2 separate regions of the Homo sapiens genome follow, and region 2 is linked to region 1. The links come from fine-mapping of genetic effects on gene expression. A gene starts in region 1. The other region holds a variant in brackets. All regions are shown on one strand. Distances are between the middles of the regions.

Evidence for each region. PIP is the estimated chance that this variant, and not a neighbour inherited with it, causes the effect.
Region 2: its variant is the best candidate, but not a certain one, in a credible set for the expression of ANKRD26 in lymphoblastoid cells (GEUVADIS, PIP 0.51).

The regions. Positions count from the first base shown.
Region 1 is chr10:27,098,971-27,101,886 of GRCh38, forward strand. ANKRD26 (ankyrin repeat domain containing 26) reads right to left here and starts at 1,524. Exons shown (of 34, transcript NM_014915.3): 1 at 1,115-1,524. The coding sequence starts at 1,356. RefSeq lists an enhancer at 961-1,020 and a silencer at 1,191-1,370.
Region 2 is chr10:27,148,058-27,150,973 of GRCh38, forward strand. It overlaps YME1L1 (YME1 like 1 ATPase), which reads right to left. Exons shown (of 19, transcript NM_014263.4): 2 at 849-983. Among named protein-coding and RNA genes, the nearest start is that of YME1L1, 4.9 kb to the right of the region's middle. The variant CAAAAAA/C (reference allele first, on the strand shown) is at 1,654.

The DNA.
Region 1 (2,916 bases):
ATCTATTGCCACTTTCTTTTCTTTCTTTCTTTTTTTTGAGACAGAGTTTTGCTCTTGTTGCCCAGGCTGGAGTGCAATGGCACGATCTTGGCTCACTGCAACCTCTGCCTCCCAGGTTCAAGCGATTCTCCTGCCTCAGTCTTCGGAGTAGCTGAGATTACAGGCTCCCACCACCATGCCTAGCTAATTTTTGTATTTTTAGTAGAGACGGGGTTTCACCATGTTGGCCAAGCTGGTCTCGAACTTCTGACCTCAGGATATCCGCTTGCCTTGGTCTCCTAAAATGCTGGGTTTACAGGCGCGAGCCACCACGCCTGGCCTCTACTGCCACTTTCAATGGTCACATATTATCATGCACTGACATTTATTCACAAAATCCATTCTATGGGTTCTCCTTAATACACTGCTTAAGCAATGCTGAGAAAAACAAATTACTTGTATATCTATTTCCTAAAGGCATTTTATTTCTTTTTCTTTTTGAAAGATAGGGTCTTGCTCTGTTGTCACTGACATACCTCACTGCAGCCTAGAACTCCTGGGCTCAAGTGATGCTCCTGCCTCAGCCTTCCAAGTAGCTGAGACTATTAGAGTTGGGGGGGGGGGTCTCGCTATAATGCCCAGGCTGGCCTTGAACTCCTGGCCTCAAGCAATCCTCCCGCCTCAGCCTCCCGAAGTGCTGTGATTACAGGCGCGAGCCACCGCGCCTGACGAATAACAGATTTTATAGAAATAATTTTTAACCCAGAAGTTGCTATATTATGGAAACTGCTTATCTCATTATGCACCTTTCCATAAGTGTATGACATTGTATCTTAAATGTGTACATTAAAAATAAAACGCTGTACGTGCTTTTGTTCGTTAATTCACTTTAAAATTGTCACTTAAGTGCTCTCTAAGGGATTTCGGGGGGATCGGAAACCAGCTAGAGTTCTGTTTTTGTTTTTCTGCTCAGAAAGGCGGCCTGGGCGCTGGAGCCCTGCAAGGTGTCACCGTCCCAGGGGCTACGGAGCCCGCGGGAGGCTGATCCAGGCCCTGGGTGGCTCCCACAAAAGGGGCCCCTCTTCCTGCCCGCCTACTCCAGTGGCACTCAGTCCGGGCTTGCGACGCCTATTACCTGTTCATCTTGTCTCTATCGTTCAAGCCATTCTTCCTGAGCAAAAGGATCTGCTGCACTTTCGCCACATTACCCGCGCTGGCAGCTTTGTGGATCTTGCCGAGATCTCGGTCTCGGACGTGGTAGCCGGGCTGCGAGTAGGCGCCCTCCCCCGGCTCGCCCCCGCCTCCCGCGCTGCTCCTCTGCCGCCGCGCGAAGGAGCCCAAGGGCGACTCGCCCTTCTTACTAAAAATCTTCTTCATGGCCCAGGCGACCGGGCTTCAGAGACACCTCATGTCTCTCTCGGCTCTTAACGGCCTCCGGAGCCCAACATAACAAGTCAGCCCCGGCTGGCCGCAGCCTCCCAAAGGAAACTCCGCGGTTTCCAATCTCTCCCTCCGGGTTACCAAGCAAGCGATCCCGCTAGACACAAGTGCGCATGCGCACCTCAGATGGCAAGGTCCACGCGCGTGCGCACGAAGGCCCAGTGGTCAAGTGTGCTCCATGCGCATGTGCAAGGCCCAGACCTCGCAAATCTCGGCGACTGGGACGAGCCCTGCGTTCCTGTCAAACAAATGTCGGTGGGAGTCTGGCTGAGTGTTCAGGACGTTTGCGAAAAGAAGCCTCGCGCCTGTGGGGAAGCAGCCTTTACGCATGACTGGGACTGGAGTAGCGTGGAGTTTTAAGATGCTGAAAGCCTCTTCTCCGAGAAAACTCCCCTAAGAAACTCTCTGAATCTCCCTATCTCTCAGTTTATTCCCCTTCCATGTCCCTTTGGGTGCCATCTGGTCTCCATGAGAACTTAACAGATGCAACAACAGAGGGCACAGGATTTCGGAGATCGTGGCATATGTGTCAAGTGCAGAGGGCACAGGATTTCGGAGATCGTGGCAATATGTGTCAAGTGCAAACTTACGAGGAGAAACCAATGCACATTCTCCAGAAGAAATGAGAACGCATTTCTGCATGCCTCCTTCCCCCACCCCTCTGCCTTTGGCCCAGCCTTATGTTTTATTTTTTGCTTTTGATTTTCCAAGGTTACATCTCTTTCTTCTTTTTTTTTTTTTTTTCCCCAACAGAGTCTCGCTTTGTCGCCCAGACTGTAGTGCAGTGGTGCAATCACGGCTCACTGCAGTCTCCACCTCCTGGGCTCAACGATACTCCCACCTCAGCCTCCTGAGTGAGTAGCTGAGACTACAGACGCAAGCCACCACGCCCGGCTATTTTTGCATTTTTTGTAGAGACAGGGTCTCACCATGTTGCCCAGGCTGGTCTCCGACTCCAGGGCTCAAATGATGCTCCCATCTCAGCCTCCCAAAGTGCTGGGATTACAGGTGTGAACCACCACGCCCAGCCTAGATTGAATAATTTGACAACAAATTGGAATTAGCAACGCAGACGTCAAGTGGAGTCTCAGCAGAAATTGCTGCTGGAATGCACCTCCATAGCTCTGGACAGCTCTAGGGTCCCTTGTGGAGGAGGTGGCTGGCCCCAGAACAGGCGTCTTTATTGCCAAGTGAGAAATGAGCAAAAACAAAACAACACTTCTCAGGCCTCTCCAGCTTAGCTAGATCAAATGGTTTTGATGTGGGAGAGTGGTTTCCACTATCGTCACCAAGAATTTTCCTCCTACACTACCCCAGCTAGAAAGTTATGTTGTCTCCTCAACACTCCCCAAGGTGATCTATGAAGCTAGTCAAGTCCCAGCACTTTAGGAGGCCGAGGTGGGTGGATTACCTGAGGTCAGGAGTTCGAGACCAGGCCAACGTGGTGAAACCCCGTCTCTACTAAAAATACAAAAATTAGCTGGGTGTGGTGGTGCA
Region 2 (2,916 bases), 49 kb after region 1:
AAGTATGAGCTGCTCCCTAAATCTGCTGGTCCTTTATTTTTTTAAGAGTTTTATTTACTTCTTAAATCCCTACCTATTCCACTTCCCTGTAAAAACAGGTGTTTTTTTTTAGATTAAACCAAAAAATGAGATTACATTTTTATATTTATTTATTTATTTATTTTTGAGACAGAGTCTTGTTGTCACCCAGGCTGGAGTGCAGTGGTGCGATCTTGGCTCACAGCGACCTCTGCCTCCTAGGCTCAAGCTATTCTCTTGTCTCAGCCTCCTGAGTAGCTGGGACTACAGGCGCACGCCACCACACCCGGCTAATTTTTGTATTTCTAGTAGAGATGGGATTTCACCATATTGGTCAGGCTAGTCTTGAACTCCTGACCTCAGGTGATCCTTGAACAACACAGATTAAAGCTGCACAGATCCACAGATACGTGGACTTTCTCCGGTCTCTGCCACCAGAGACAGAAAAACCAACCCCTCCTCTTCCTCCTCAGCCCACTCAACTTGAAGATAATGAAGATCTTTATGATGGTCCACTTCTACTTAATGAATGGTAAATATGTTTTCTCTTCCTTATGATTTTCTTAATAACATTTTCTCCATCTTACTTTATTGTAAGAATACAGTACACAATACATAAAATATACAAAATATATGTTAATGGACCCTTTATTTTATCGGTAAGGCTTCCTGGTCAATAGTAGGGTATTAGTAGTTAAGTTTCTCAGGAGTCAAAAATTATACTCAAATTTTTGACTACGGGGGAGGGACAATATCCTTAATCCTTCATTTGTTTAAGGGTCAACTGTATATCAAAAAGGCTTTCTCACACAACCAGGATAAAGACTTACCTCACTGCTGGGAGCCTCATGCTCAGGAACTACATCTCGATGCTGGTTTTGAGAAACTGACACTCCACTGAGAGAAACAGAAGTGTTTTTTGGTGTATGGAAGGCATTGATGAGATGACTCAGAGGAACTGTAACCTAGAAAAAGATAAAAGTTAAAAACTAAGTAGTTTTTTTTTAAATAAACAGAACAATCTCCTTTTTTTGTCAGGATTTGTTAAGAGTTAAAGGTACATTATATATCAACTCTGTATACTAAAAACTGTAAGTACTCAGATTTACTGCTGGTGAGACGAAAACTGGTATGTTCTTTCAGGATATTATTCTGAATATGTAAATCAAAAGTATCAAAAATACATACATTTCTTGTTTGTAGCAATCCACCTTCTAGGAATTTATTATAAGGAAATAATCTGACAAGTACTTGCACATGCATAGAGAACAACTCTCATCGAAACATTTAAAAAATAGTAGAAAGCTGGAAACATCCAGCATTAGGGGAGCGGCAAAACAAATGATACCACTGGTCGAGTGCAGTGGCTCACGCCTGTAACCCCAGCACTTTGGGAGACCGAGGTGGGTGGATCACTTGAGGTCAGGAGTTCAAGACCAGCCTGACCAACACAGTGAAACCCCATCTCTACCAAAAAATACAACAATTAGATGGGTGTGATGGTGTGCGCCTGTAGTCTCAGCTACTTGGGAGGCTGTGGTAGAAGAATTGCTTGATCTCAGGAGGCGGAAGTTGCAGTGAGCTGTGATCATGCCACTGCACTCTAGCCAGGGCAACAGGGTGAGACCTGTCTCT[CAAAAAA/C]AAAAAAAAAAAAAAAAAAAGAAACTACCACAGAATGAAATACATCCAACATTTAAAAAAAAAAAAATAGTAAGTAGGCCGGGAATGGTGGCTCATGCCTGTAATCCCAGCACTTTGGGAGGCCAAGGCAGGTAGATACCTGAGGTCAGGAGTTCGAGACCAGCCTGGCCAACGTGGTGAAATCCCATCGCCACTAAAAATACAAAAAAATTGGCCAGGAATGGTGTTGGGCGCCTGTAATCCCAGATACTTGGGAGGCAGAGGCAGGAGAATCACTCGAACCTGGGAGGCGGAGGTTGCAGTGAGCCAAGATCATGCCATTGCATTCCAGCCTGGGTGACAAGAGCAAAACTCCATCTCAAAATAAATAAATAAATAAAAATGAAAACAAAAAAAACACTTGAGCCCAGGAAGTTGAAGCTGCAGTGAGCTATCATGCCACCACACTCCAGCCTGAATGACATGGCAAGACCCTGTCTCAAGAAAAAAAAAAATTTACTTAATAAATATTTGTTGAGTAAATGAATACATTAAATGGGTTCTTATTATATACCAGGTTTAGTACTACAGGCTTTACTTCTATCATCCCATTTAATCCTCAAACAGCTATAATAATGAGTAACAATTATACTTCTTGTTACAGTTCTGTCAGAGACTTTTGAACCAGAGTGACTCCATCTGGAGTAGGGGCAAAATGAGGGTAAATGAGGCTGAGACCTACTGGGTTGCATTCCCAGGAGGTTAGGCATTCTAAGTTACAGGATGAGATAGGGTGTGGGCACAAGATACAGGTCATAAAGACCGTGATGATAAAACAGGTTGTAGTAAGGAAGCCAGCCAAATCCCACCAAAACTAAGATGGAGAGGAGAGTGACTTCTGCTAGTCCTCACTGCTCATTATGTGCTAATTATAATGCATTAGCATGCTAAAAGACACTCCCACCAGACCATGACAGTTTAAAAATGCCATGGCAACATCAAGAAGTTACCCTATGTGGTCTAAAAAGGGGAGGAACCTTAGGGGTCCCCCTTTCCCTGAAAACTTATGAATAATCACACATTGTTTAGCATAAAATCAAGAAATAACTAACTGTAGGTATCCTTCGTGGACAAGCCCAAGCAGCTCCTCTGCCTATGGAGTACCCCATTCTTTACTCCTTTACCTTCTTAATAAACTTGCTTTCACTTTATAGACTCTCTCGCCTTTTTTTTTTTTTTTTTTTTTTTGAGATGGAATCTCGCTTTGTCGCCCAGACT